Linked DNA regions of Homo sapiens. The main gene of each other region encodes a partner of the protein of the gene in region 3 in a complex. Each region holds a gene or a part of one and is shown on either strand. Other genes may lie near its edges. A codon is read from its position in the direction of its gene.

Region 1 (7,014 bases), on a different chromosome or scaffold from region 3:
GTCTGTTAATTATTGACTTAGCCATTCCATAATGCATGCACATATCAAGACATCATGCATACCATAAATATATACAATTTTTATTTGTAATTAAAAAATGAATAATTTCTTTCTTTCTTTACTGATAGTGCTCTAACATGGTGAATGTTCTTCAAACCCACTGGACTTTGTGTAAGAAGCATGGTTGGCACCAACCCCACAGAGTGACATGGTACAAGAAGGGAAAAGATGATCTGTATGCCAAGGGAAAGTGGCTTAATGGCAGGAAGGGGTGGCTATGTAGGCAGACCAAGCCAATCTTCTGGAAAAAGGCTAAAACTACAAACGAGATTGTGCTAAAGCTTAAGTGTTGGGCCCAACTGCAGATCTAGGAGAATGCTGGCTACTAGAGATACAAGTATTTTTAACTGGGAAGGGATAAAAGGAGAAAAGGCCAAGTGATCCAGTTCTTAGCTTCATTTTTGGTTTTATTATGAAGACAATAAAAATTTGAGGTTATGTTAAAAAATAAATAGGCCAGGTGTGGTGGCTATAGTCCTAGCTACTTGGGAGGACTGCTTGAGCCCAGGAGTTTGAGATTACAGTGAGCTATGACTACACCACTGTACTCCAGTCCGGGTGACAGAACAAGACCTTCTCTCTCTCTCTCTCTCTCCGTAAATAGATGTAGATAAACAAATGTAATATGGACTTCCACAAGTTACCTAATGTATCTATATACCCATTCAACAGCTAACTAATGTCCCCCCACTCCCTATTACAAACATAGAAATAACCAACATTCAGGAAATGAACAGTAAATTATTTACAAATACCAAAAAGGAGTAAGTATCACATTCATAACAATGTTTATATGTGCTAGGCTTCTTGCCAAATATGACTGGAATGAATAACTTAAAACGTTCCAATAGTTTCCCTCTCCATATTAAAATAAAACCAAAATTCCTCCTCACAGCCTGCTAACACTACATGACATGGTGTCTGCCACTCTCTTGGACCTCACTGCTGACCTCCACGCTGTGACCACAATAGCCTTCTCTGCCCTTCAAACATGCCCAGCTTATTCTTACTTTAGGGGCCCTTCACTGGCCATCCCTTTGTAATACAAACACTCACGGCTTTACGTGGCTAATTTCTCTGTTTTTCTTTTTTCTTTCTCTCTCTTTTTTTTTTTTTTTGTTGAGATGGAGTCTCACTCTGTCACCCAGGCTGGGTACAGCAGCATGATCTCAGCTCACTGCAACCTCTGTCTCCCGAGTTCAAGTGATTCTCCCGCCTCAGCCTCCCAAGTAGCTGGGATTATAGGTGCACACCATCACACCTAATTTTTGTATTTTTAGTAGAGATGGGGTTTCACCATGTTGGCCAGGTTGGTCTTGAACTCCTGACCTAAAGTGATCCACTCGCCTTGGCTTCCCAAAGTGCTGGGATTACAGGCATGAGCCACCATACCCGGCCTTTTTTTTTTTTTCTTGAGGCATAATCTCACTCTGTTACCCGCACTGGAGTACGGTGGCGCAATCTCGGCTGACTGCAACCTCCGCTTCCCAGGCTCAAGCGATCCTTCTGCCTTAGCTTCCTGAGTAGCTGGGACCACAGCGTGTGCCACCACACCCGGGTAATTTTTGTATTTTTTGTAGAGACAGAGTTTTGCCATATTGCCCAGGCCGGTCCTGAACTCCTAGGCTCAAGCAGTTATCCCATTTCGGCCTCCCAAAATGATGGGATTACAGGTATGAGCCACCGCGCCCAGCCGACATGGTTTATCTCTCCAGGTCTCAGTTCAAGTGAGATCTTCCCATTGGCTTTCCTGGGCACCCAATCTAAACCAATGGCCATCATTCTGAAAATCACCCTGCTTTACTGTTTTCAGTACTTGTATCTCAATCGGAAATGACCAGGCACTTTATTTGTTTACCTACTATACACCATCCTCTCCCCAACATCATCAACTCCCCTACAACATAAGATCTACGGGCACATGCTTTGCCCGTTGGTCACCACTGAATCCCCAATACCCAGATGTGTGCATGACACTTGACACTTGGCCCTTGGGAAGGATTTTAAACAGTTAATATTTGCTGAGTAAATGCATAACCATCTGTGTCCCACATCAGGCTATGGTCTTTGGAAGGCCTGGGGGATTTCAGAATCCTAGGAGTGACCCTCAAGGTAGCAGGACTATTTCAGAGAAACCTGTAGGTCAAAATGTTGAGACTCAAATAGTCTACCTTGGCTAGAGAGTATCTGTAGAAAACCATATTTGGAAGATTTAAAAATGGCTGATGGTTCCTTGGATACATTCTGAATTTGACTTAAGTAACCAAAAAGCTGAGTTGCTAGAAGAGAATTTGGAATTACCTGGGGGTGTGTGGTAAGCAAGGAGGATCCAGAGACATAAGACACTTTCTCGTAATGAGACTGGATGATCCAGTTGGAGCTCCCAAGGGCATAGCCAGAGCTCAGAGGAGTCACCTGGACCGCACCAAAAAGCTCCTAAAAGAGAACCACAGTAAGAATGTGCAATGAGCTTACAGTGACAGTCACATGAGGTAATTCTGCAGGGAAAAACAACAGAAATATCCTCAGTTTAAAAACAAAAATTATTTTAAAGTAAACCAGAGACTGGGTGCAATGGCTCACGCCTGTAATCCCAGCACTTTGGGAGGCTGAGGCCAGGAGTTCAAGACCAGCCTGGGCAACATGGTGAAACCCTGTCTCTACAAAAAAATACAAAAATTAGCTGGGCATGGTGGCACATGCCTGTAGTCCTCAAGCAGCTACTTGGGGCAGGAGGATCACTGGAGCCCGGGAAGTTGAGGCTGCAGTGAGCCATGTTTGTACCACTGCGCTCCAGCCTGAGTAACAAAGTGGGACCTTGTCTCAGTCAATCAATCAATAAAGTAAACTAGAAAGTTTTAAGGAAAACAGAAAGATGATGGAGATCAACTGGCAGACAAAGAAAGCAATCCTATAATATTTACTTGTCACCTGAGAGCTTCAGCTCTCTTCCATGTCCCCAGGCACTCAAGGTTCACACATTAAAAGGGAGAGATGAAATATTACCAAACAGACCAAAGACTCACACACTTTGGCTTTCCTTTTTCATTTTCAGTTAGGTGTTAGGCCCTTGTTGTTCGGTACTGAGTAGCTCTGGGCACAGGATGACAGTAAGAAATGGGAAGGCTTATCATTTAGGTCAGAGCTCAAAAGTCACACTTGACAAACTCTTCTCTCTTCCCGTTTCACCCATCCAAAATCTATAAAATCTAATGTGAACAGGATGAGACGCCTTTCTCCGGACTCCCTGCACGCTGGCCAATCGAATGCTGGCTGGTGATGGAGATGTGAGGGTGGGGAAAGAGCACCAATAAAATCCTGCGCGGAACGGAGGAAAGAACAGAGGCTCTGGATCCTCAGCAATGGAATGGCTTTAAAAACGTAACTATAGGATTCTTCCAAACAACAAACAACAATATGAATGGAAAGCATTCATGAATAACTGAAATGTAATATGAATACTCACAATTTTCTGAGAATATCCCACCAGCTGGATTTTACTAAGGGCAGAGTTCACCTCTTGCATTGTATAGCATCTTCTCCAGGTTGAGACTTCCACTGCATCCTTGAGAGGAGAAGGTAACAGCCTGCAAATGGATCACAATGTCAACTACCAGGTGAACATTTCTTCATGTTCTACAGCATTCCTTTCTAGTAATTTGTCCATTTGATCCAAATGGTTTAATTTACTGGCATATAATTGTTCATAGGATTCCTTTATGACCATTTCTCTGTTTTTATTTTTACTTTTTTTGAGACAGAGTCTCACTGTGTCACCAGGCTGGAGTGCTATGGCGCCATCTCGGCTCACTGCAACCTCCACCTCCCGGGTTCAAGCGAATCTCCTGCCTCAGCCTCCTAAGTAGCTGGGATTACAGGCGCCCACCACCATGCCCGGCTAATTTTTGTATTTTTAGTAGAGATGGGGTTTCACCATGTTGGCCATGATGGTCTCAATCTCCTGACCTTGTGATAGGCCCAACTCGGCCTCCCAAAGTGCTGGGATTACAGGCATGAGCCACCGTGCTCAGCCATTTCTTTTTTTAAAAAAAAAAAAAAAATAGAGACATGGTCTTGCTATGTCGCCCAAAATGTGTCAACAGAAAAACGTTTTATCATTTGCTCCAAAAGAATCAGGAGACCTGAAGAGTAACTTCCCTGACATTCACTGTACAATACAGGTCCAAGTACTGGGGTGAAATGAATGCATGCCATTAGCCTCTCCTCTCTCTCCTGAAACAACACTGAACAGGGCTTCTCACACACACACACACACACACACACACACACACACACACACACACACACACTCTCACACACACACCCTTAAGACAAAGAGAATGAGAGAAGAGACAATAGCAAGGCATTTTAGAAAGTAGACAGACAAATGATAACTGACTTCATAGGCCCAGGAAAGTTCAATGCAAACGTTTAATTTCTACTGCAGAACCCACAAAAAATATGGCAACTGAAAACAACAGGTGTATCAGGAAGTTGAATCAACCTAAAAACAAGAGGAACTGTTGAAAAAAGAGACGAGATACTTAGAACCTTCCAGATCTCCTCATTCCTTCCATATAGCTCAGCAGATGTCCCTTCTCCTCTCAGGTATGCTACCAGAGGTTGTTCTCTGGAGGGAGTAAAAATGAAAGTCTGGACTACGGGAAACCATCAACTGAGACAGCCTTCCTAAACAAAAATTTACAGAGGAACAATGTTCCTCTCCTCATTTGGCTGCCAAAGCACTATGAGTAAGCTTATTCCCCTCAGGGTAGGGGGCTGAAAGAATCTTCTCTGAAGAATCCGATCAGCCTCAAAGAAAAAAAATTAATGAAAAGATTCTAACGCAGAGGATTCCACAAAGAAACAGCTCAATCAGATTACTTTATGGTAAAGTGTGGAAGTGAACAAGTCCTACCCATGGCACATAGACTTTCTAATTAGTTTTTTTAATCGTTCAACTCTTAAACATGAGCCAATAGCCAAGGACTACCATAAATTTGAGAAAAGTCTCTAAAATAATAAAGGCCTCAAGTGGGGGCAGAGGAGCAGGCAGGGAAATTAGAAGAAATAAATTAGGCAGGTAGAAGAAAACTTTAAGAACAGCTTGTCCTTACTATCGTTAGAAAAATAAGATAGTATAGCTAAGAAATGAGAAGAGATTGCTACAAAATAAAAGATTAAGAGAATAAAAAGAGCTGTTACAAATTAGAAATACAATGTCATATAGAGAGTGAAAGCATGCCAACAATACACCAGAATTTCAAATAAGCTAAAAAGATTTAAAAGTTATACAAACGTGAAAGAGGTACATACATGAAAAACCAGCAAAGCTTATAAATGAGGTGACAAAACTCAATAAAGAATTAGAAATAAAAGAAAACATCATTTTGGAAATGAAGACTAAACTACATGTTGACCATCCCAAATCTGAAAACCTGAAGTCAGAAATGGTCTAAAATCTGCAGCTTTTTGAGGCAAACATGACGCTTAAAGGAAATGCTCACTGGATTACTTTGGATTTTGGATTTGGGATGCTCAATCAGCAATATTCCAAAATCGGAAAAAGTCTGAAGTCTGAAACACTTTGGTCCCAAGTATTTCACATAAGGGACACTCAACCTGTAATAGAAACACAAGAGTAGATTAATAAAAAATACCAAAAAGAAATGAAGAGATTTAAACAATTCAAAAGAACCTAACAAATGTTGAAGACAGATAAGCAAGATGCCACATAAGGGAATCTTATGTGGCATCACAGAAAACCAAGTGAGAATAATAATTAACACTCATAATATTCAATTACTAAATACTATAATTGCTAAAATGAAGAGACACGAAACTACACACTAAAAGAACACAGTGTACACTTGAGAATACTGACCCAGAACAATGAACAACAGACATATTCTGGAAAATATTTAGACTACAAGCAAACCTTTGGGATCTAGGAAAAGAACAAGTGACTTACAAGGAAAGAAAATTAGATTTTATCAGTGTTTTTAATAGCAATGTTTAATATTAGAAAAAAATATGAGAACATATTTAAGATACTCAAAGAAAGAAAATGCATGCCAAGGACTATATATCTAGCAAAACTGACTTTCTTTTTTTTTTCCTTTTTTAAAAATTTTATTATTATTATACTTTAAGTTTTAGGGTACATGTGCACAATGTGCAGGTTAGTTACATATGTATACATGTGCCATGCTGGTGTGCTGCACCCATTAACTCGTCATTTAGCATTAGGTATGTCCCCTAAAGCTGTCCCTCCCCCCTCCCCCCACCCACAACAGTCCCCAGAGTGTGATGTTCCCCTTCCTGTGTCCATATGTTCTCATTGTTCAATTCCCACCTATGAGTGAGAATATGCGGTGTTTGGTTTTTTTGTTCTTGCGATAGTTTACTGTGAATGATGATTTCCAATTTCGTCCATGTCCCTACAAAGGACATGAACTCATCATTTTTTATGGCTGCATAGTATTCCATGGTGTATATGTGCCACATTTTCTTAATCCAGTCTATCATTGTTGGACATTTGGGTTGGTTCCAAGTCTTTGCTATTGTGAATAGTGCCGCAATAAACATACGTGTGCATGTGTCTTTATAGCAGCATGACTTATAGTCCTTTGGGTATATACCCAGTAATGGGATGGCTGGGTCAAATGGTATTTCTAGTTCTAGATCCCTGAGGAATCGCCACACTGACTTCCACAATGGTTGAACTAGTTTACAGTCCCACCAACAGTGTAAAAGTGTTCCTATTTCTCCACATCCTCTCCAGCACCTGTTGTTTCCTGACTTTTTAATGATTGCCATTCTAACTGGTGTAAGGTGGTATCTCATTGTGGTTTTCATTTGCATTTCTCTGATGGCCAGTGATGGTGAGCATTTTTTCATGTGTTTTTTGGCTGCATAAATGTCTTCTTTTGAGAAGTGTCTGTTCATGTCCTT
Region 2 (7,905 bases), on a different chromosome or scaffold from region 3:
GGTCACAGCTTGTACATGGACTCCTGGGTGCAGTGCAGTCCTGGGTGCAGTGCTCTTTCCACTTTCTTGACCCAGAGGTCTGCTTCCTGCCCATAAGCCAGGCCCTCCAGCTGGATGCCCGTTCCTCAGAAGCGGCCCTTTGTCCCACCCTCCATCATTCTGCATTCCCATTCTGAGCACCTACTGTGTGCCAGAACATTTCCAGACTGTGATGCTGGCTGTGAGAGGGCAGAGAGCAAGGTGAACACGGGTCAGATTCCCCCAAAGGGCGGAGGTGATGGGGATTAGTTTATGGAAGTCCTTTGGTGCCTAGCACTTGGCTGGACACTGTAAAAATGCCTCTGTTAGCCTGGGAAACCTAGCGACATCCAGTCTCTTGGAAAGAAAAAAAAAAAAAGCCAGGCATGAAGGCGTGTGCCTGTGGTCCCAGCTTCTGGGGAGGCTGAGGCTTGAGCCCAGCCCTGGAGGTTGAGTTTGCAGTGAGCCGTGATCGCGCCACCGCACTCCAACCTGCGCGATACTGCCAGATCCTGTCTCAGAAAAAAAAAAAAAAAAAAAAAAAAAAGCCTGTTACCCGGGAGGAGAGCTCCTCGCCCGACCTCTACCCTCATGAAGAGAGGCTCAGAGGGCTGAAGTGCCTATTTGGCCGAAAGCCGTGGCAGAGTGGCAAGGCAGGGCCAGGGGAAGCGGCTCCGCCGCCGGGGCCGGGCCCCTGTTTGGCCGGTGCCCGGTCCTTAGCCTGAAGGTGGCGGGCTTCCGCCAGAAGCCCCTGGCGGAAGCGGTGCCCGCGTGCGGGCCAGAGTGTGGGTGTGCAGGTCTCTGGGCGGCCCAAAGGGGGTGCCCCTGCCTGGTAACCTAGCGGGAGGGTGGGGACGGCGGGGAGGGCGGCGGGCGCGGGGCACGGCTCCGCTGCTCAGGGCAGGCTCCGCCCCCAGGGGCGCGGATTTAAAAGGATCGAAGGCAGCCCCGGAGCCCAGCGGCCGGGAAGCGCGCCCGAACGAAGCCGCGGCCCGGGCACAGCCATGGCCCGGCGGGCGGGGGGCGCTCGGATGTTCGGCAGCCTCCTGCTCTTCGCCCTGCTCGCTGCCGGCGTCGCCCCGCTCAGCTGGGATCTCCCGGAGCCCCGCAGCCGAGCCAGCAAGATCCGAGTGCACTCGCGAGGCAACCTCTGGGCCACCGGTAAGTCTTTGGGGACGGAGCAAGCAAGCGCCCCTCATCCAGTTCAGACCCCATTTCCTTCTCAACCCTCTGGCCGCTCCTCAGCCACGGACACTAGTGTCGGAGCAGGTGGAAAACCCTGGGGCTCATCTAATTTAATAGATATGTACTTGAGACCCGGACAGGTCAGTGACTTGGCTAAGGTCGCGCAGCCAGTTTAAGACAGGGCTGGGCTAGATCCTAAATCCCACTGCCAGCCGGTGCCCCTTACCTTAGGCGAGACTTAACCGAATCTTCTAACCGCTGGTGTGTTTTTGCTGCACCTCCACTTTCCAGGCGCCTCTTCACTCTCCACTTCCTACCCTGCCCTTTTTCGTCCCTTGTCCAAGCAGCCCACACAACTAGCAGAGTTTCTCCCTGGCCCTGGACCATCCCACCTTCCTGCCAGCTGTGCCATCCTCTCTACCTGTTCAGGAAAAGCTGAGGGAGCAGGCTTTGCCACCACCCAGACACCTTTGTGGCTCCTTGGTGAGGTGGAAGCACCAAGAGGAGGAAGGTTAAGTGTCTTCCCGCTACAAGAACGGAAACGTGGGAGAGATGAGGAACTTTTCCTCTGAGGTAGGATCCTGGCTGCTTGACTTCCTTGTGCCTGGACACCTCCTTTCCAGGTCACTTCATGGGCAAGAAGAGTCTGGAGCCTTCCAGCCCATCCCCATTGGGGACAGCTCCCCACACCTCCCTGAGGGACCAGCGACTGCAGCTGAGTCATGATCTGCTCGGAATCCTCCTGCTAAAGAAGGCTCTGGGCGTGAGCCTCAGCCGCCCCGCACCCCAAATCCAGGTGAGCCGGGCCCCTGCTCCAATGTCAGGAGGGCCCAGCTGGGGCCATCCCCGGATCCTGCATGGGAGGAATTACCACCCAGTACTGTATTAGGGTGTGACTGTCTGACTAGGACATTATGGGTGTGGACCCCAGAAAGCCAGGTTTCCAGGCTTTTCCCTCTTGAGGCAGAGCTCAAAGGAGGAACAGTCCAAAGAAAGGAAGCTGACCTTCCCAGTAGACCCCATGGGGCAAGAAGTAGGGAAAGAAGTTCCCCTGACTCATCACCCAGTCTAAAGTAACAGACTGGGATCATCAGCCTTTTGGAGCAGGACCTTTCTCCCCCAGTCTACACAGTCTTGTCCCACCCATGCTGTTCCCTGCTGCATTAGTCAAGTCCACCTTTGCTGTGTCCTGTGTATGCTTGTGGCCGGAATGGGACCCTGAGGCCCAGAGAGGGAAAGAGAAGTCAGCAGCCAAGACAGAGTCTGGACCTTGTTCACCTGGACTGGAGCTCTTCCCATTCTCTCATCTGCCTCAGTATCCAGTGGTAGGGTTTAGCAACTTCAGTACATTTGACGTTCTAGGCTGAATCACTGTTTCTTGTGAGGGCTGACGTGTGCATCATGGGATGTTTGGCAGCATCCCTGGTCTCTACATACTAGATGCCAGTAGCATCTTTCCCCCCCATCAAGTTGTGACAACTGAAAAGACCTCCAGACATCACCAGATGTCTGCTGGGGGAGAGGGCCCCAAATCATTATTGGTTGTCAGTCACTGATCTATGGGATTCAAGACTCCAAAGCTGGAGCCAAGCTAGCCTCAAGGTATAGCCCCGCTGAGTGGCAACTCCTTCATTCCCTGCTCCTGGTGCTGTCCTTACTGCACACCACCCTCCCTGGTCCTGCTGCTGTGTGCAGAAGGCAGTGTGATGTGGTAGAATGTGGGTTTTGACTACAACGTGCTGGGCTCATAACCTAGCTACTTAGTAGCTGTATGACCTTAGAAATGTCCCTTAACTTCTCTAAAGCCTCAATATTCTTCACCCATAAAATGAAGATAATAAGGCCCATCTCCCATTAAATGAGACCATTTATGTCAAATGCTCAGCATGGTGCCTGGCTCATAGACAGCCCTTAGTAGATGCGAGCTCTTATCAGTCTGTGAGCTCCCTGGCGGCACCTGTTGTAGACTCGCCTTCATATCCCCCAGTGTGCCTAGCATATAGTGTGTGCATTTTGAAGGGAGAGGCATTCCCTAGAAAAGGTCCAACCCAGCCTCAACCAACATCCCTGACTTCCTGAGGCACAGAACCAGCAGCCCCTGAGGACCTCAGATGTAAGGCCTAGGAGCTTGGGCTGGCTGAGTCTGAAGGGAAACAATGTCACCTCTAATGCCCTTGGTTTTGAAGCTCTGACACATGCAGACCAACTAGAGAATCTCAGAAGCAGCAGTGCCTACGTCTGGGGCTTCAGAGTGAGGTCTGGGGCAGAGCTGGGGTGGGGGAGTGAGGACGCTGACACTAGCCCAGCACCAAGCACTGTATTTGGATTTTCTTCCACGATCTTCTTTGACTGTCATGACCACCCTGGGTGGTTGGGGCTGTGTTCTGAGAAAACTACTGCCCCGACCCCTCCAAGGCAATTCAGGGTGCTCTGGGGCCTGCCTCAGCTGACAGCCTGCTGGTGCCCACCTCTGCAGACATCTGGCACTTAGGAATGGCAGGATGCCCCTATCTTTATCAGGAGCCCCTCCCTGGCTCAATTCTTCTGTATGTTTCTCTTCAGTACAGGAGGCTGCTGGTACAAATACTGCAGAAATGACACCAATAATGGGGCAGACACAACAGCGTGGCTTAGATTGTGCCCACCCAGGGAAGGTGCTGAATGGGACCCTGTTGATGGCCCCATCTGGATGTAAATCCTGAGCTCAAATCTCTGTTACTCCATTACTGTGATTTCTGGCTGGGTCACCAGAAATATCGCTGATGCAGACACAGATTATGTTCCTGCTGTATTTCCTGCTTCCCTGTTGAATTGGTGAATAAAACCTTGCTCTTTACATACAATGCCTGGTCCTCTCCTTTCACCCGTCTTTTAGGGGATGGGAGGAAAAGGGGGCTGGAGGGCAGAGTGTTCAGTGAGATGGGGCTGGCTCAAAAAGTCCAGAATACCCCATGCCATGGCACCAGCCTGGCACTGACTCTGGCCTCCTACCCATTCATTCAGCAAGCAAATAACGCCTGTTGCATGCCAGGCTTCGTGCCAGGCGCGGGGTTCTACTCTCATCTCTGCCACCTACTGGCGCAGGCAAGTGTCACTAGTTTCCTCGCTAGTAAAAGGGGGCTGCAGACACTACACTGCCGGGCTTTACTCAATACCCCCGCCGGACTTGGAGGGGAGCGCCGAGTTGGGATCCAGACCCTGCCGGCCGCTTCCTCTCTTCTCTGGCCGTCAGAAGGGTTGCCAGCGTTAGCAAATAAAAATACTGGACACCCAGTTAAATTCGAATTTCAGATAAACAATAATTTTATCTAATAAAATGTACCAAATATTGCATGAACATACTCGTAAGAAAGAAATTATTCACCGTTTTTCTGAAATTCGAATTTAACCGGGCGGTCCTGTATTATTTCTGGCCTTGGAGCATTCATTGCCCCTCTCTTGGGCTGCAAACACCTGGCCCTAAAACGGGCGATCATTTGGTCCTCAGGTCCTGCTTGGAGCTGACAGCGGGAAAGTCCCGATTTCAGGTCACTTTTCCCGGAGCTTTCGCGGAGAAAACCCGTAACCCACCCATGCCGGGCCGCAGCTCAGCCTGTTAACCCCGCCCCTAACGGGAGGCCCTGCCCACATCTCGCGAGAGCCGCGCGGCCCCCGAAGGCTCGCAGGCGGAAGTGAGACGCCGGAAGCGGTCGTTGCCATGGATCCTGGGGACGACTGGCTGGTGGAATCCTTGCGCTTGTAAATCGTACGGGGCTGGGACATGGGAGCTGGGCCTGGAGCTTGCCTGGCGGGCGGATGGGTGTGGGTGGAGGCACGTTGGGGATCCTGGTGCAGAGTGGGCCAGCTGTGGCCTCGGGGCTCGCCACCGTGGAGGACTCCGCCTGGGCCTAGGCCCCCATCTCTAGGAAATGGCTCCTTCCTGCGTGCGCGCGTTGTGAGATTACTAGTAAGAGCCGCGCTTGTGAAGACGCAGTGCCCAGTTAGTTTGCGCCAGCCTCTGAGTTCAGCTCAGAACACAGATGATCTCATTGATTCCTCACGTCAACCTTGGGAAATCTGGGTACCCTGGGACGTCCACACATGAGGACCGAGGCTCAGGGACATCAAGGGACTGGCCTGGTCCCAGAAACAGGGAGTAAAATGGGAAGTAAACTCAGTCCCACGTCTGCCTGACTCCAGAGTTTGGGCCACTGAACCATGCGGCTGCCATCTTGGAGTTCTTTGAGCTGTGAAGTGCTGTGCATCGTGTGATTCTGTGTCCCTTTTGTGCAGGTACCAGGATTTCTATGCATTCGACCTGTCAGGAGCCACTCGAGTCCTTGAATGGATTGATGACAAAGGTGGTATACCTTTCTAGCCCTGAAGGAGAGGGAATCTCACTCCTGAGCTGGGTTTCAGGAGCTAAGCCTAGAGGGACCCAACCCACTCTTCTGGGCACCTGAGAGTCACTTGTAGCAATTTGATGCCCCATCAGCACTAATATTCCTCTTATTAAGATCTCTGACCGGGAGCAGTGGTTCACGCCTGTAATCCCAGCACTTTGGGAGGCCGAGGCAGGCGGATCACCTGAGGTCAGGAGTTCGAGACCAGTCTGGCCAACATGGTGAAACCCCGTCTCTACTGAAAATACAAAAATTAGCCGGACGAGGTGGTGCACACCTGTGTACCAGCAGCTACTGGGGAGGCTGAGGCAGGAGAATCACTTGAACCCAGGAGGTGGAGGTTGCAGTGAGCTGAGATCACGACACTGTATTCCAGCGTGGCTAACAAAAAAAGTCTTCAGGCTGGGCACTTCAGGAGGCTGAGGCAGCGGGCAGATTGCTTGATCCCAGGAATTTGAGACTAACCTAAGCAAGGAAACCCTGTCTCTACAAAAAATACAAAAATTAGCCGAGCATGGTGGCTCACGCCTATAATCCCAGCTACTCTGAAGGCTGTGGTGGGAGGATCACTTGAGCCTGGCAGGTTGAGGCTGCAGTGAGCTGTGATCGGACCACTGCACTCCAGCCTGGCTGACACAGCGAGACCTTGTCTGAAAAAGACACAACCAGGTACTCAATTCCTCCATACAAGGCTGCACAGTGAAGGAATGTATCCTTACTTCGGGGGATTGCATGGTCTGCAATCTTTCTAACAATTTGTGACAGCTACCTCTGCTTCTTTTTCCAGGAGTCTTTGTTGCTGGCTATGAAAGCCTGAAAAAGAATGAAATTCTTCATCTGAAATTACCTCTCAGACTTTCTGTAAAGGAAAACAAGGTAACTTAAAATATAAATGCTGAGTATGTCAACTTTTATTTATTTATTAAACATTTGTGGAGCTCCTGTTATCTACCAGGTATTGTCCTGGATACTAGAAAGAGAGAAAGCGCTAGGCCTGCCCTTCTAGTCTAACAGAGGGAGGCACATATGCACAGAGATAAATGCTGTAGAATGTCTCGTGGTTTACAGAGGGCTATCAGAGGAGGAGGTCAGTTATACTTTATCAGAAATAGATTTAGGGAGCGATTAAGGATATAGAGGGCGGTCGAAATGCGTAGAGTGATTAAAGTCACCTAGTGAATGTGTGGTATATAAGGAGTGAGGAGAATATAGTGAGGACGGAACCTCAGGGAACACATTTAAGGGATGAGTACAGGAAGATGCACCCCCCCTCCCCAAAGAATACTAAGAAAGAACAGCCTCTGAGGTAAGAGGAATCTCAGAAAAGGTCAATGTTTCTGAAGCCAAGAGAAGAGAACTTCTCAAGAAAAAAAGAGTTAGTAGCTGTCTAGAGTTCCAATAAAATCATTGAGAGAAGAATTGAAGGCCAGGTGCAGTGGCTTACGCCTGTAATCCCAGCACTTTGGGAGGCCGAGTTGGGCGGATCATGAGGTCAGGAGTTCGGGACCATCCTGACCAACATGGTGAAACCCCGTCTCTACTAAAAATACAAAAATTAGCCAGGCATGGTGGCGCACACCTGTAATCCCAGCTACTCAGGAGGCTGAGGCAGGAGAATTGCTTGAACCCGGGAGGCGGAGGTTGTAGTGAGCTGAGATCGTGCCACTGCACTCCAGCCTGGGCAACAGCAAGACTGCATCTCAAAAAAAAAAATCATTCAGATGAGGAATTGAGTTCATTCATAAGACTGGCAATTGGGAAACTCTTGGTGACCTCTGCTACAGGATTTTTGCTGGTGGTGGTCAGGCCCAAAGACTAAAAATGAAGAGGAAGCAGAGTCACGAAATGTAGGGAGGGAAGAAGCTAAAGCAGCAACTAGTCGGAAACACAGATCTGAGGGAAGGTTTCCTAAACACAGAGGCTTGAGCAGAGTTAGAAGCTATGGGAAAGTAACCCTTGAAGAGGGAGAGGGTGAAAATGAGGGAATATCACAGGGAACACGCTCCTGCTTCCAGGAATAGAAGGTGAGGATAGATCAGGAGTCCAGGGGATGGTATTAGTCATCAGAGGACAAGGGAGGAGTGAGGCATGCAGGCAGATGACCTTGAAGGGCCATGTGGGGGCAGGAATTTGAGTGTTTGCTCCTGAATTCCTTTTTGTTTTGAGACAAGGGCTTGCTCTGTCACCCAGGCTGGAGTGCAGTGGCGCGATCCCTGGCTCACTACAGTCTAAACCTCCCAGGCTCAAGTGATCCTCCCGCCTCAGCCTCCCAAGTAGCTGGGACTACAGGCATGTGCCACCATGCTTGGCTAATTGTTAA
Region 3 (7,731 bases):
TGGCAACACGAGCCTCACACCACTGCACACCATGCAGCCCCCAACACAGACCCTCATCTGCAGCCCTCCCACACTCCTGACAGCCAAGCAGCCCTGCCCAGCTGCTCCAGCCAGAGGCCTTGGCCAGCCAAGGCACACTCAGCCCCCTCATGTGGCCTGGGGGCCCGAGAGGAAAGGGTCACGGCCCCTGCACAGACTGTGCCTGGGCAGGAGTCTGATGGCAGTGAACAGTTTTCCCCTTGAATCCCACCCACCTCCCCCTGCCAGCCACTCGAAGTGTCCAAAGCCAGCACCACACATCAGGATGACGGGGCCACAGCCGAGGGGCTGCCTGCCACAGAGAGGGGATCTCAGGTTCTCTTCCAGGCCTGTTCCTGCCCCCGCTGGGTGTGAGCTCTCTGAGAGCAGGGTCTCAGCTGTCTCCTCCCTCTGCATCTCCTACCCCAAGCCACGCCAGGCTCACAGAGGCCCTCTGGCACCTGTGGGAAGGGAGGGCCGCCCCTCTTCATGCCCAGGGACCTAAGGCCACAGAGGCACTTGTGGCACACGGCCCCGAGGCATGGGGCCCGGGCTGGTTTTCTGAATTCCAAAGCCCAGTCCTGAAGTACTGGCAGTCCCGCCTCCCGACAGGACCCACAGTGATCCCAGGAAGGAAAGTGGAAAGGTGCGGGAATAGAGCCTGGAGATACACGAGGGGACAGGGCTCAGAAGACAGGAGGAGATATCCCTGTCAGCAAGGAGACAGACGGCAGACAAACAAGACACCCAAAGCACGCCAGACGAAGGTTACTATGACAGAAAAGAGCAAGGTGAGAGAATGAGGAAGCCTCAAAACTTCCAGAACCATGACAGGAGACTGCTCCGAGAAGCCAACTTTTGAGCAGGGGAGGGGAGGGGTAGGGTGGGGGAGGGGGAGGGACGGGGTGGGGAAGGGATGGTCCAGGGGAGGAGAAGAAGCGGGGCGGGCGGAGGGAGGACAGGCAGCAGGGAGGGACAGGCAGGGGGGAGGGAAGGGACCAGCAGGGGGAGGGACGGGCAGGGTGGGTGGGGGGACCGGCGGTGGGGAGGGATGGGCAGGGTGGGTAGGGGGACCGGCGGCGGGGGGGGTAGCCACACACAGGCCAAGGCGTGGGAGTGACCCCAAGGACACAGCAGTGGTCCAGTGAGCGCGGACACGGAGCCCGAGGCAGTCCCTGGTGCAGGGAAGCGGTGAAACAGGACTTCGGCTTTGATGATACCTTGGCTGAGGTGACCTTGAGAATATACCCAGGTACAGATTGCGGGTAATTGAAGCCACATGAAAGATCAGAAAGATCAGATGTCCAGAGAGTGGGCAGAACAGGCAGCCAAGAGGCCAAATGGGAAAGGGGCAGGCTGGGAGGACCCCACGGAGGACCCAGAGAGCAGGGGAGGGCAGTGGGGCCCATGCAAACAGCTGCAAAATGCCATGGGGTGTGCACAGGCCAGGGGTGTTCACAGCACAGTGTCCACACCGGGGCGGGGGGCACCCTCCGAGGAAGCGCTCACGCCATGGGGGAGGACATGGAATCCCGTCCTGGTGTCTGTGCTGGAAGGTGCCCTCGACCCCCTGCCCGGTGGAAGGACCAGGTTCCAGGACAGCACAGGGCAGGCACCTGTGGAAAACGCTAAGGACATCAGGATGACTGGCCACCAACACCATGTCCCTCCAGCTGTTTCTGAGACCCTGGATTTTGACTAATTTTTTCCTTCTTCACATCGTTCTATACTGTTACGACTTTGACTTTCTTTTGAGACATGGTTTTGCTGTCACCCAGGCTGGAGTGCAGTGGCACAATCATGGCTCACTGCAGCCTCAACCTCCTGGGCTCAAGCAATCCTCACAACTCAGCCTCCCAAGTAGCTTGAACCACAGGCACACACCACCACGCCCTGCCAATTTTAGCATTTTTTTTTTTTGGAGTGATGGGGTCTTGCCATGTTGGCTAGGTTGGTCTTGAACTCCTGGGCTCAAGCGATCCTCCCACCTCTGCCTTCCAAAGTGCTGTGATTGCAGGCGTGAGCCACAGTGCCCAGACTGTCAGGACTTTTAGGAGTACATATTTGCGTTTTTTGCTATTTTTTTCAGTGTTGCAGAAATCAGGTAGAACAAGAGCTAAAGTGAGAGTTGATTGTAACTCGGGCGTGAGCACACAGAGTGGTGGACAGAAAGCAAGACGTGAGGAGGCAGAAGCGGGGCTGGGGGGCTGAGGGGCTTGCGGGGTTAAGGGGCTTGGGGGCTGGGGGACTGGGGGGCTGAGGGGCTGGGGGGCTGAGGGTCTGGGGGTCTGCTGGGCTGAGGGGCTGGGGGACTGAGGGGCTGGGGGACTGAGGGTCTGCTGGGCTGAGGGTCTGGGGGACTGGAGCGCTGGGGGGCTGGGGGGCTGAGGGACTGAGGGGCTGAGGGGCTGGGAGGCTGAGAGGCTGGGGAGCTGGGGGGCTGAGGGTCTGCGGGGCTGAGGGGCTGGGGGGCTGGGGGGCTGAGGGGCTGGGGGGCTGAGGGGCTGGGAGGCTGAGAGGCTGGGGAGCTGGGGGGCTGAGGGTCTGCGGGGCTGAGGGGCTAAGGGACTGAAGGGCTGGTAGGGCTGGAGGCGGCAGCGCGCGGCACGGGGAGGTCAAGGCACCGACGAAAGCGCACAGCGAGCGCGAAGGCCCCGCGGCCCCATCTGCGACGTCCCCTCACGGCCGCCTGAACCTCGGGGCTCGCGTTCTCGCGTCACTGCCGGAGGCCCGGGGTGCAGGGACTAGGCCGCCTCTCGGCTCCCACCAGGGCCCGCGCGGGGAGGAGACCGGAGGACGCCCGCGGCGCGCACCTGGCTCCACGAGAAACGGGAGGGAGCGGGGCGCCCAGCCCGCCCGGAGCCGCATACGGAGCCCACCCCACAGCCCTCCCGGCGGCTCCCACTCACCCAAGGGCGTGACTCTGATCTCAGGCATCGTCTCCGCCGCGCTCCCGGACCCGCGAGGCCCGCCTGCGGTGATGCACTGCGCAGGCGCAACCACCTCGCTGCAACTTCCGGTGCGCTAGCCGGAAACGCGGGTCGGGGCGCCGGGCCTCCTGATTGGGCAGCATCCAACCAATCAGGGCGGCGGGCGAGGGCGGGGCGAGGGCGGGGCGGTGGGCGGGGACGGGGCCCGCACGGCGGCTACGGCCTAGGTGAGCGGCTCGGACTCGGCGGCCGCACCTGCCCAACCCAACCCGCACGGTCCGGAAGTCGCCGAGGGGCCGGGAGCGGGAGGGGACGTCGTCCTAGAGGGCCGGAGCGGGCGGGCGGCCGAGGACCCGGCTCCCGCGCAGGACGGAGCCGTGGCTCAGGTCGGCCCCTCCCCAACACCACCCCGGGCCTCCGCCCCTTCCTGGGCCTCTCGGTGGAGCAGGGACCCGAACCGGTGCCCATCCAGTCCGGTGCCATCTGAAGCCCCCTTCCCAGGTGAGACTCGTAGCGCTCGCTCGACAGGGTCTGGTCCCACCCACAAGGCCTGGGGCGCCGTGGGGCCCCGTCTCCTGCTGGCCCCCCAGCCTGCTGTCAGCCCCCGTGCTCTGTGCTCAGGCCGCCCTCGCGCCCGGCCCTGACCTTGGGCCGTTGGGCTGCCCTGGGAAAGGCCTGGAGGTGTCCTGGGTCACCTTCCTGGGCTGGCAAGCTGCCTGCCTCCTGCACAGCCACTGCCCTTCCTGTTGTTACCGAGCCACCAGCCACAGCTCTGAGAAGCTCCTGGCAGCTTCTGTTTGCCACTGGCTCGAATCTGGGCAGGAAGGCAAGGCCCGCAGAATATCTGGTGACCAAGAAGGAAACCCCAGAGCCTCAGAGACCATCTTCTCAGTGGACAAAATTAAGGCCCGAGGAGGGGAGGGGCGTGCTGGAAGTCTATGGGACTGCATCTTTCTGAGGCCCAGGAGCAGCCATCCCCCACACCTGAAGCCCGGTGAGCTCACATCTGGGGCCTCCGCCTGGTGCCAAGCATGCAACCCAACCTGTGGGGCCTGCAACGCCAGGCTTCAGCACCCTGCAGGCACCAGTGCTCCAGCAGCCTGGGCCACGGGCTGGGCAGGGCTTGCAGCCCATGATCCCTAGTGATGAAGGGCCCAGTCCTAGGGTGCTGAGCAACCTGCCCACCTGCTCCTGGCCAGGAGCTCTCACCACGGCTGGGTGCCCTTCCCCCTCCCCCACCGATGGAGTCCCTGCAGCCAGGGAGGCCAGGACAGGGCTCCCAGCACCAACCGGCCTAGGAACCCCCAGGCCCTCTTCCTGGTCGAGGTGGAATGCAGCTGACTCTCAGGTTCCCCAGAGCAGGTGCGGGCCCGTGGGGCACCCGGGGAGACAGGGCAAGGGTGCTTGGCAACACTCACACAAAGCATGGGTGCCTGGATGTCTGTGGATCTGTGGAGTGACTATGTGAATGCCAGCAGAATCCAAAGCAGGGCCTGGGCCACTCGTGGAAGGCTCCCTAGGGCTAGTACAAGAGCCTCGTGGCAATCTTCTGAGTGGTAAAACCCATCTGTGTGGGACATGGAGTTTCAGCAACAGGAGTGAAAACACGTGTCCATCCATCCAGCAAGTGCCAGCCCTACAGCCTCTTTTCTGCTTTTGGGGATGTAGCAGTGAGGAAGATGGGGCAGCCTGCCCGGCAGCATCCCCCCACCCCCGGCCCCACCTGTCTCTGCTTTCTGCTGTGTCTGTTTTCTTGTCTAGGACTTCAGAACTTCCTGTCTTTGTTGTCATCTGACCCCACCCCAGATGGCTGCTCGCACTCCCCATGCACCCAGATAGATGGCTAGGATGGTGCTTGGCTCTCGGCAGGGGCTTAGTATTTCTCCAGCTGGTAAAAGCAGATACAGCATCTAGAGAGAGAAACAAAAACAAGAAAGCACCAGCAGAGACACCTGCTGCAGACAGCGGGGCCTAGTGGTCTGATAAAGCCAGAGGGGGCCACTCTCGGGGTCAGGGACTGACACGGAGTCAGTGGCCTGATCCACAGGAGGGGCTGTGCCAAGGTCCCTGAATGCGCAATCCTGATGAAGGGTGGGTCAGGGTGGTGTGCCTGAGAGCCTGCGGCTTGGCTGGGAGCAGAGCCAGGCAGCTCCTGGGAGGAAGCTCCATGAGGGGCATGAGTGTTCAGTGAGCGGCAATGGGATCGCAGCTATTTTGTTCCCCTCCACACACAGAAAATGAGCCACAGAGCAAGCTGACCCCAGCGACACAGCCCCCCAGCCCTACTGTATTTCCGTTCCTATCAAAAAATGGATGACTCGGAGACAGGTTTCAATCTGAAAGTCGTCCTGGTCAGTTTCAAGCAGTGTCTCGATGAGAAGGAAGAGGTCTTGCTGGACCCCTACATTGCCAGCTGGAAGGGCCTGGTCAGGTGCGTGTGCCAGGGCTGCCTCCTGAGGTGGGCGCTCCCCTGGCCCGAGTCCCATATGTGGCATCTGCCTCCCGACTGCCTGTCCCCACCAGCTTTGCTGCCCGTTTCCAGATGGGTGTGAGCCCCCGCAGGCTGGGCAGCGTCCCCTGCACCCCAGGCGGGCTGCCCCAGGCCTGGGCGAGGACTCGAGCCCCGCTCCCTTCCACAGGTTTCTGAACAGCCTGGGCACCATCTTCTCATTCATCTCCAAGGACGTGGTCTCCAAGCTGCGGATCATGGAGCGCCTCAGGGGCGGCCCGCAGAGCGAGCACTACCGCAGCCTGCAGGCCATGGTGGCCCACGAGCTGAGCAACCGGCTGGTGGACCTGGAGCGCCGCTCCCACCACCCGGAGTCTGGCTGCCGGACGGTGCTGCGCCTGCACCGCGCCCTGCACTGGCTGCAGCTGTTCCTGGAGGGCCTGCGTACCAGCCCCGAGGACGCACGCACCTCCGCGCTCTGCGCCGACTCCTACAACGCCTCGCTGGCCGCCTACCACCCCTGGGTCGTGCGCCGCGCCGTCACCGTGGCCTTCTGCACGCTGCCCACACGCGAGGTCTTCCTGGAGGCCATGAACGTGGGGCCCCCGGAGCAGGCCGTGCAGATGCTAGGCGAGGCCCTCCCCTTCATCCAGCGTGTCTACAACGTCTCCCAGAAGCTCTACGCCGAGCACTCCCTGCTGGACCTGCCCTAGGGGCGGGAAGCCAGGGCCGCACCGGCTTTCCTGCTGCAGATCTGGGCTGCGGTGGCCAGGGCCGTGAGTCCCGTGGCAGAGCCTTCTGGGCGCTGCGGGAACAGGAGATCCTCTGTCGCCCCTGTGAGCTGAGCTGGTTAGGAACCACAGACTGTGACAGAGAAGGTGGCGACCAGCCCAGAAGAGGCCCACCCTCTCGGTCCGGAACAAGACGCCTCGGCCACGGCTCCCCCTCGGCCTATTACACGCGTGCGCAGCCAGGCCTCGCCAGGGTGCGGTGCAGAGCAGAGCAGGCAGGGGTGGGGGCCGGGCCTGCAAGAGCCCGAAAGGTCGCCACCCCCTAGCCTGTGGGGTGCATCTGCGAACCAGGGTGAAGTCACAGGTCCCGGGGTGTGGAGGCTCCATCCTTTCTCCTTTCTGCCAGCCGATGTGTCCTCATCTCAGGCCCGTGCCTGGGACCCCGTGTCTGCCCAGGTGGGCAGCCTTGAGCCCAGGGGACTCAGTGCCCTCCATGCCCTGGCTGGCAGAAACCCTCAACAGCAGTCTGGGCACTGTGGGGCTCTCCCCGCCTCTCCTGCCTTGTTTGCCCCTCAGCGTGCCAGGCAGACTGGGGGCAGGACAGCCGGAAGCTGAGACCAAGGCTCCTCACAGAAGGGCCCAGGAAGTCCCCGCCCTTGGGACAGCCTCCTCCGTAGCCCCTGCACGGCACCAGTTCCCCGAGGGACGCAGCAGGCCGCCTCCCGCAGCGGCCGTGGGTCTGCACAGCCCAGCCCAGCCCAAGGCCCCCAGGAGCTGGGACTCTGCTACACCCAGTGAAATGCTGTGTCCCTTCTCCCCCGTGCCCCTTGATGCCCCCTCCCCACAGTGCTCAGGAGACCCGTGGGGCACGGAACAGGAGGGTCTGGACCCTGTGGCCCAGCCAAAGGCTACCAGACAGCCACAACCAGCCCAGCCACCATCCAGTGCCTGGGGCCTGGCCACTGGCTCTTCACAGTGGACCCCAGCACCTCGGGGTGGCAGAGGGACGGCCCCCACGGCCCAGCAGACATGCGAGCTTCCAGAGTGCAATCTATGTGATGTCTTCCAACGTTAATAAATCACACAGCCTCCCAGGAGGGAGACGCTGGGGTGCACTGGGTGCCTGATTTCCTGCAGGGGGACACAGGGGCACCCAGTGAGGGTGGGGAGGGCCCTCACCCCAGGGACACAGCTGAGGTGGGTGCACCTAACTCCAAGGGAGCTGAGGCCCCACTGCCAGGCTCAGGGGGCTGTGTTAGCCCCAGGGCTCAACAAACACCCTGAGAAAAGGCCAGCCTTGGAGGCAGGGCTGCTGTGTGCCCATTCTCCCAGAGAGGTCCCATCACTATGCCTGTTGTACAGGTGAGACAAGAGAGAGACAGAGTCACCCAGAACCAAGAGGCTGGGTTGGGAGGACGGTTGGGAGGGCAGACATCCGCCTCTCCATGCAAAAGAGGAGAGGCCTGCGTGGGATGTGTGCGTGGAGGTGGGGGCCACTCCCAGCCACAACAGTGGCCTGGACAGAAAGGGGATGCAATTCAGCAGAGTCTTCCTGGATGTCACCCCCACCTCAGGGTCTGTGGGAGCTGCATATGGTGCCGGC
Region 4 (7,533 bases), on a different chromosome or scaffold from region 3:
ATTAGCACGCTGTCACTTCTACCACATTGTATTGGCCTGTCACAAGGCCAGCACAAATTCAAAGGGTGATAATATAGATTTCATCTCTTAATAAAAGCACCTTCAAAGTCACACTTCAAGGGGTATACATACCGAGAGGGGGAGATTTGGGGCTTTTTTTGCAATCATTCAACTACACACTGGATCCTTTCCATCATGGAAGGAGCAGTGATTTGTCCTCACAGGAATAGATTCATATTCCAAATTCAGATTTGACTTCCCTGCCTGCAATATTTCTGCCAGCTCCATCATCTATGGATGCCTCATTCATTATCATAGTACTCCACACATTGCTTCTGATTAAGGAGCTTATTTTATGCTGAGAAAATTGTAGTGAAGAAACTTCTTGGTCTTGCCAGGAACCCCATCATTCAGATGTAGGTGCTATAATAAAGCAGAATAATAACCTTTTGGAGATTCAGTTATAGCGCTAGTCAAGAGCCAACACATTGTGAGTTTGGGCCGCTGTTTGTGGCATATGCCTTATACCAACAGCTAAAATATAGTACTGCTTCTCCCACAGTTAGAACATGGGTCTGGTTATCAAAGGGTGGAGATAGGAGCAGTTCCTCTCTCTTTTACACCTAATAATTCATTTATGAATTCTTGGGCTCAGTAGGTTTGGAAGACTTACTCCCCAAGGGAGGAACAGTTGCCCTAGAGAACATAGTCATTGTTCATTACATTGGACATGTAATGAGACTGTCCCCAGACCACTGGGGCTCTTGTTCTGAACCAGCAGGTAGAGAAGAAGTTACTAAGTTGGGCTGCTGTTATGCAAGAGAGAGAGAAGACTGAAGCCTCACGGATTCATTCACAGGTGAACCTTAATGTATTTTCATAAGTAATAATAAAAGTCAAAGGAAAATGGCATCAATACAATAAAGACGGTTTTTCAATTCAACATTAAAGAATGTGTGTTCTTGTTTCTATACCAATCTGGCTCATTGAGAAGTTGGCTATACCAACTTCTCAAATTTATTTATTTATAATTTAAAAAAAATTTATATAGCCAGGCGTGGTGGCTCATGCCTGTAATCCCAGCACTTTGGGAGGCCGAGGTGGGCAGATCACTTGAGGTCAGGAGTTTGAGACCAGCCTCGGCAACATGGTGAGACCCTGTCTCTACTAAAAATGCAAAAAGATTAGCTGGGTGTGGTGGCGCATGCCTGTAATCTCAGCTACTCATGAGGCTGAGGCAGGAGAATCGCTTGAACCTCAGAGATCGAGGCTACAGGGAGCCACGATTGTGCCACTGCACTGCAGCCTGGGTGACAGAGATAAACTCCATATAAATTTTTTTTTTTTAAAATATAGAGACAGGGTCTCTTTCTGTTGCACTGACTGGTCTGGAACTCCTGAGCTCAAGGGATCCTCCCACCTACCACCTCCCAAAGTACTGGGATTACAGGCATGAGGCACCATGCCTGGCCTCAACTTTATTTTTATTGCTTCTTCTGTTCCCTGCATGCACTTAACTTTCAACATGAACTGAAGTTCCTTTGGTTTTCGGAATGCACCAAACTCCTTCCTAAAGCCATTTATTTATTTATTTATTTATTTATTTATTATTTTGAGACAGGGTCTCATTCTGTCACCCAGGCTGGAGTGCAGTGGTGCGATCTCAGCTACTGCAATCTCTGCCAAGCGGGCTCAAGCAATCTTCCTACCTCAGCCTCCCGAGTAGCTGGCACTACAGGCATATGCCACCACGCCCAGCTAATTTTTTGTATTTTTGGTAGAGATAGGTTTTCACCATGTTGCCCAGGCTGGTCTCCAACTCCTGAGCTCAAGCTATCCTCTCACCTTGGTCTTCCAAAGTGCTGGGATTACAGGTGTGAGCCACCGCACCTGGCCGCCATGTATTTAATAACGATGATAATACTCTGTATCATTGATGCTATGATGCACATTTAATGTCTCCGAAATCAGGAGATGTTGGCCAATCGCTCATATGTATACTGAGTCGTAGCAGTTCATGGTGTCATCGCTTCGACTGAGCTCTGTGCAATTTTGGAATTACATGTGTTATTTTAAATTACTATTAAATATATCTCCAAATAGATTACCCTATAATTTGGCATTAAAAAGTTCTTATGTGCACAGGAAGACATGGAAACAGCAGTGCGAGGTAAGATACAAATCTATGTCTAAATAAGTTAAAAAGAGCTGTTTCTGTAAGTATACATAACAAATCTAAGCAATTAGAAACCATTGTATTTAATTTCAGCATTTCTTTTCTTAACATAATAAATAAAATATTGATTTTACAATTGCTGGCAGCTTAGATTTGATAGAATATGATAATGGTAATAATAGCAGCTAAGCTTTATTAAAGGTACTGTTTGCTAAATGTTTTTCATTTCCCTTGACATATTTGTATATCTTATCTCGGCGGTCTGGGATGCCTTTGTTTCTGGAAAAACTCATTCTTTTAAAGCTGCATTAGAAATAGTTTCCTTTTTTTTTCTTTTTTTTTTCTTGAGACAGAGTCTCGCTCTGTTGCTCAGGCTGGAGTACAGAGGCCCGATCTCGGCGCACTGCAGCCGCTGCCACCTGGGTTCAAACGATTCTCCTGCTTCAGCCTCCCGTGTAGCTAGGATTACAGTCACCCACCCCGACGCCCGGCTAGTTTTTGTATTTTTAGGAGAGACGGGGTTTCACCATGTTGGCCAGGCTGGTCTCGAACTCCCGACCTCAGGTGATCCGCCTGCCTCGGCCTCCCAAAGTGTTGGGATTATAGGGGTGAGCCACCGCGCCCAGCCTTTTTTTTTTTTTTTTTTTTTTTTGGAGACAGGGTCTCACTCCGTTGCCCAGGCTGGAGTGCAGTGGCTGGATCTCGGCTCACTGCAACCTCCACATCCCAGGCCCAAGCGATTTTCCCGCCTCAGCCTCCAGAGTAGCTGGGACTTCAGGCGTGGGCCACCATCATGCCCAGCTAAATTTTGTATTTTTAAAGTAGATTTCGCCATGTTGCCCAGGCTGGTCTCAAAACTTCTGAACTAGGTGATCTGCCCGCCTCGGCCTCTCAAAGTGCTGGGATTATAGGCGTGAGCCACCACTCCCAGTTTCCTCTAATTTTAGGAAAGCCTTCCCTGAGGCACTCTGAAGAAATTAGGTCTGTTTGAACCACATTCATTCCCGTTACCCAGCACATTTCAGTTGCACTGTCACCATCAGTTTGGGTGTCTGTCTTCTCAGATTGTAGGACCTTGAGGATAAATACTATCTTTTGTTTATTTTTGGGTCCTCTGTATCCACCTCAGCCTCCTGCTTTTTTTTTTTTAAACTATCCCACATTAATTCTTTTTTTTTTTTTTTGATAACGGAGTCTCGCTCAGTCGCCCAGGCTGGAGTGCAGTGGCGCGATCTCGGCTCACTGCAACCTCCGCTTCCCATGTTCAAGTGATTCTTCTGCCTCAACCTCCCAAGAAACTGGGATTACAGGCGTGTGCCACCATGCCCCGACTAATTTTTGTATTTTTAGTAGAGACGGGGTTTCCCCATGTTGGCCAGGCTGGTCTCGAACTCCTGACCTCAAGTGATCCATCCGCCTCGGCCTGCCAAAGTATTGGGATTACAGGCATGAGCCACCGCGCCTGGCCCACATTCTTTTGAAAGACCAAAATAATGAACAGCTAGTTTCATGTAGGTTGTAAAACTTGACCTTGGATTTACTGACACTAACATGTGCACTACACCTTACAGTCCGTAAAATGTTCCTGCATTATTTCACTCCATTGTCACATCTTTGTCAGGTTAGTTATTATAAATGCATTTGTAGTTGAGCCATTTGCTCAAGAACCAGAGCTGTAGTCTGTAGCTTTGTTGCTTTATCCTTGGTCTCAGAAGTCTTCTACTGTACTATAGCTATCAGAGCAGGGATTGATGCCTTAAAGGATGGCAGCTTTTGCAAAACTGGAATAAGGAAGTATGGAAAGGCACCCCAAAACAAGAGAGGTGGCGCACAGCTTGAACAAAGGCAGTGCTCAGGAAACCTACAAACAGCATCGTGTACAGCAAAGGATGATGGGAAAGTCAGCCGAGCCTCTGAGTTTTTTCACGAGTCGTAAACCCCTTACAGAGCTCCGGGTTTTGCCTCTAGCTCTGGAGCACCCCGCCTCTGCCCTTTAACCTGTACTTCCTCCCTCCCTCCCTTCGCGCCGCGCCGCGCTAGTCTCTTAGCCACTCCGAGGCCACCAACCAGCCTCCCAAAGCTCCCATTGGGTTGCCCACCCTTTCAGTCTCAGCTCCTCCCGCCAGAGGCCCCGCCTCCCACAAGCGAAGCTCTTATTTCCGTTCTTCCGGCGTAGGCCGCCAAATCAGTCCGTACAGTGGCGAGGCAGTCGAGCAACAGGAAGCGGTCGCTCTTTCCCCAAATCCCACTGCCTTGTGGGATCTCGGCAAGTCATCCACCCACCCCCCGCGCCTACGCAAGTTTTCCGGATCCGTCCACCCCCGCCTCCCTCCTAGTGTACGGAAGCTGAGAGGGCCCGCGGGTAGGCATGGCGGCGCACCTTAAGAAGCGGGTTTATGAGGAATTCACGAAAGTGGTTCAGGTAAGCTCTGGCGGGAAAGATCCAGAACCGATCCGGACCAGGGTAGATTATCCAAATCCCAGGCACTTTGCCGGAACAGAAGAGGCTCCATACGCCCGTGTTAAGTGCTGACTTGTTGATAATCTCTGATATTGCAAGTTAGTGGGCGTGTTAGTTTGCAGCCGCTGTTGTCATTAATATGTGAAGTCTGACAGGATTTTAAAAAAATTATTAGGAGAAACAGTGTTTTTTAATTTACGAAACTGTCTTATCCGTTATTTCATTTTATTCTCTCACACAACTTTGCTCCATCGCGTTACATTAGCATCCTCGTTTTCCAGATGTGGACATTGAGCCTTCCGGAGGGGTACGAGGATACAGCCAGTTAGCAGCAGAGCCCCTTCTAGCCTCCCCGCACCCCCGTTCCAAAAAAAAACCTCCCAGGGACCAGTTGGAATATACACAAGGTTCTAAGGGGCTGAAAGAAGGGTCTATAGAATTCCTTCAGGCGCAGTCTAAGCAGGCGGGGGTCACAGACTTCATAGGGGAAGAGCTCTCTATTGGTAGAACAGCTCACCTAGGAAGGAGGGCAGTACCTTCCTCACCATGAAGTTGTGACAGGTGGGCAGAGTCCCTGTCGGGAGTCAGTGATGCTCCATGTGTCTCCACGTAGATGTTGCTAGGGTTGATCCTAAATCATCCTGATGTCCTATTTCTCAGATATTAATGTGTATACAAATTACCTGGGGACGTTGTTCAAATGTCGATTCTATTTGATAAGTCAAGCAGAGGAGGTGAGGCAAGATTCTGCATTCCTGACATGCCCCCAAATTTACACCAGTGCATTGGTTGCATTCTTAGATCCTTAGACTTGTAGAGTGGCAAGGCTTAGAGCATCCAGCAGGATACTGATCCTTAAACATTACATGGATTCATTCATCCAGCATTAAAATATGTTAATACAAATACAAAATATGTCAATACATAATATAAAATTTACAATTTTAACAATTTTAAGTATAAAGTTCAGTGGCATTAAGAACATTAGCACTGTTGCACAATGTGATTTCCTCTCTTCCCAACATTCTGTTGTTCCCATTTCCCAAGACTGCTCAGCCCTCTTCCACCCATCCTCACATGACCAGATATGCCATGTGTTCTTGTGTTTGCATATCTCAAAACTCTTGCACTGGTTGTCTCTTCTCACAGAATACATGCCATTCTTCCCTTTCTTTTTGTTCTCCACCCAGTGGACTTAACATTTGTGCTTCAAGACCCAAATGAAACCTCAGCGAGAGCTTAGTCTCTTCTTCACCTGTTTCTGTAGCATTCTGTGGTACTAATCTATTTGTACTTTTTGTTCAGTGCTGCTGTCATTACCGGTGTACCTATCTTCCCACCAGTCGGAGGTCCTTGATGGCAGAGCTAATGCCTGGCTCATCTCCGTGTCCTGGAGATGGACAATAGGGCCTGGCTCACTAAAGTGTTATTGGTGGTTGAATGACAGTTGATATTGCTTGTCCTCTCCCTTATATAATACTTAGGGAAAAAATTCCTAGCTTTTGACCTAACTACAGCTTCGATAAGACTGAAAACTGAGTTTGAGAGGACTAGGATAGAAATGGCTAAGAATTTTAAGGGAAGAGCTAATTTCTTCACTTAATTTTTCATCAGTTGTTAACATAAAGTGATTAAATGAGATCTTAGTGCTTCTGTTCTTTTTTCTCCGCTGAAAAGATGAGGAGGGAGAACTGATATGTGCCTAGCACTTACATATACGTATAATAAAGTTATGTTTAATAACAGATTTATCGACTAGCTCTGTGATAATAAAGTATTGGTATGCCCTCCTATAGAAGAAGGCCTTCCCCAGCTAGTAAGTTGTAATTGAATACAAATTCCTCTGACTCCAAAGTCCTTATTCTTTTTATCATGTCATACTGTGTTCTTGTCTAGAATAATTCTACTCTCTTTTCTATAGAAATGTGAATTTGTAAGGAGGTGATTGCTCAGTACATAAAAACGCACCATTAGGTGGTAAGGAAATTTATTTTATTTTATTATTATTTTTTAACAGAGACAGGATTTCACCATGTTGCCCAGGCTGGTCTCGAACTCCTGGGCTCAAGGGATCCTCCTGCCTCAGCCTCCCAAAGTGCTAGGATTTCAGGTGTAAGCCACTACGCCCATCGGATATTTGTTTCCTTTTCTTCTGTTTTGAGATGGAGTTTCGCTCTTTTCGCCCAAACTGGTGTGCAGTTGCGCAATCCTAGCTCACTGCAACTTCTGCCTCCTGGGTTCACGCAATCCTCAGCCTCCTGCATAGCTGGGACTGCAGGCATACACCACCACCCCCAGCTAATTTTTGTGTTTTTAGTAGAGATGGGGTTTTGCCATGTTGGCCAGGCTGGTCTTGAACTCCTGGCCTCAAGTGATCCGCCTGCCTAAGCCTCTCAAAGTGCTGGGATTACAGGCATGAGCCACCATGCCATGTCTGATATTTGTTTTCTAATAAAGAATGGACTTTGGGAGACTGAAGCAGAGGGATCACTTGAGGCCAGAAGTTCGAAACCAGCCTGGGTAACATGGCAAAACCTGTCTCTACTAGAAATACAAAAATTAGCCATGTGTGGTGGCACACACCTGTAATTCCAGCTAGTTGGGAGTCAGGGAGGTGAATCGCTTGAACGTAGTAGGTGGAGGTGGCACACACCTATAATCCCAGCATGTTGGGTGTCAGTCAGAGAATCATTTGAACCTAGGAGGTGGAGATTGCAGCAAGCCAAGATTGCACCATTGCACTCCTGCCTGGGCGACAGTGTCTTGCTCTGTCTCAAAAAAATGGAGTAGATCCTTTGTGTGACCTCTAAACCCAAAGGCTACCACAATCCTCAGAGATAGGTAGAGCAAAATGTTAGTGTAAGGCTGGGCACCGTGGCTCATGCTTGTAATCCCA

What was found.
Region 1: the proteins of INTS11 (region 3) and INTS9 are in contact, whole or in part, in a cryo-EM structure (PDB 8RC4), measured with the Homo sapiens proteins. Residues at the interface, in NP_060341.2 of Homo sapiens: His94, Gln97, Ala98, His137, Leu138, His139, Gln140, Thr141, Lys274, His277, Tyr278, Lys280, Leu281, Phe282, Ile283, Pro284, Trp285, Arg291, Phe294, Ser449, Pro450, Ser451, Ile452, Pro453, Val454, Gly455, Ile456, Ser457, Leu458, Leu461; in NP_060720.2 of Homo sapiens: Glu127, Gly198 (codon at 3,544), Tyr199 (codon at 3,541), Ser200 (codon at 3,538), Gln201 (codon at 3,535), Lys202 (codon at 3,532), Tyr231 (codon at 2,415), Glu338, Phe339, Ile342, Phe343, Glu345, Gln352, Lys354, Val355, Tyr356, Leu357, Pro358, Glu359, Pro360, Pro361, Arg511, Arg512, Tyr513, Glu514, Lys515, Ile516, Glu517, Ile518, Met519.
Region 2: the proteins of INTS11 (region 3) and WDR73 are in contact, whole or in part, in a cryo-EM structure (PDB 8R22), measured with the Homo sapiens proteins. Residues at the interface, in NP_060341.2 of Homo sapiens: Tyr206, Thr208, Thr209, Ile210, Arg211, Asp212, Ser213, Arg215, Cys216, Arg217, Glu218, Arg219, Asp220, Leu222, Lys223, Lys224, His226, Phe255, Arg258, Met259, Leu364, Val384, Glu385, Tyr386, Ser388, Lys418, Lys419, Glu421, Phe422, Gln425; in NP_116245.2 of Homo sapiens: Asp5 (codon at 4,913), Asp6 (codon at 4,916), Leu8 (codon at 4,922), Val9 (codon at 4,925), Ser11 (codon at 4,931), Leu12 (codon at 4,934), Tyr15 (codon at 5,477), Gln16 (codon at 5,480), Phe18 (codon at 5,486), Tyr19 (codon at 5,489), Ala20 (codon at 5,492), Phe21 (codon at 5,495), Asp22 (codon at 5,498), Leu23 (codon at 5,501), Glu50 (codon at 6,411), Leu52 (codon at 6,417), Arg59 (codon at 6,438), Leu68, Phe69, Pro70, Glu71, Arg72, Asp73, Phe74, Lys75, Val76, Gly79, Phe81, Asp116, Ser117.
Region 4: the proteins of INTS11 (region 3) and INTS4 are in contact, whole or in part, in a cryo-EM structure (PDB 7BFP), measured with the Homo sapiens proteins. Residues at the interface, in NP_060341.2 of Homo sapiens: Pro183, Trp191, Lys194, Asp212, Gln288, Gln400, Gln404, Lys462, Met465, Ala466, Leu469; in NP_291025.3 of Homo sapiens: Leu159, Asp161, Thr162, Arg167, Tyr203, Gln207, Asp244, Ser292, Gly294, Trp296, Arg299, Lys323, Met326, Ser327, Asp328.

The regions. Positions count from the first base shown.
Region 1 is NC_000008.11:28,809,966-28,816,979, forward strand, and holds part of INTS9 (integrator complex subunit 9), read right to left. Parts: intron 3,648-7,014; coding exon 3,527-3,647; intron 2,497-3,526; coding exon 2,362-2,496; intron 1-2,361. UniProt on the Homo sapiens protein: Component of the integrator complex, a multiprotein complex that terminates RNA polymerase II (Pol II) transcription in the promoter-proximal region of genes.
Region 2 is NC_000015.10:84,651,270-84,659,174, reverse strand, and holds the start of WDR73 (integrator complex assembly factor WDR73), read left to right. Parts: upstream 1-4,891; 5' UTR 4,892-4,900; coding exon 4,901-4,941; exon of another isoform or gene 4,942-5,475; coding exon 5,476-5,543; intron 5,544-6,372; coding exon 6,373-6,461; intron 6,462-7,905. Other genes in the region: NMB (neuromedin-B isoform 2 preproprotein), read left to right, coding at 1,023-1,179, 1,827-1,999, 3,771-3,905. UniProt on the Homo sapiens protein: Component of a multiprotein complex required for the assembly of the RNA endonuclease module of the integrator complex. Associates with INTS9 and INTS11 in the cytoplasm, stabilizing the INTS9-INTS11 heterodimer and blocking the active site of INTS11.
Region 3 is NC_000001.11:1,321,654-1,329,384, forward strand, and holds the start of INTS11 (integrator complex subunit 11), read right to left. Parts: upstream 3,008-7,731; 5' UTR 2,956-3,007; coding exon 2,928-2,955; intron 1,635-2,927; coding exon of another isoform or gene 1,524-1,634; exon of another isoform or gene 1,239-1,523; intron 332-1,238; coding exon of another isoform or gene 255-331; intron 1-254. Other genes in the region: CPTP (ceramide-1-phosphate transfer protein), read left to right, coding at 5,258-5,379, 5,588-6,110.
Region 4 is NC_000011.10:77,991,655-77,999,187, reverse strand, and holds the start of INTS4 (integrator complex subunit 4), read left to right. Parts: upstream 1-4,519; 5' UTR 4,520-4,544; coding exon 4,545-4,598; intron 4,599-7,533. UniProt on the Homo sapiens protein: Component of the integrator complex, a multiprotein complex that terminates RNA polymerase II (Pol II) transcription in the promoter-proximal region of genes.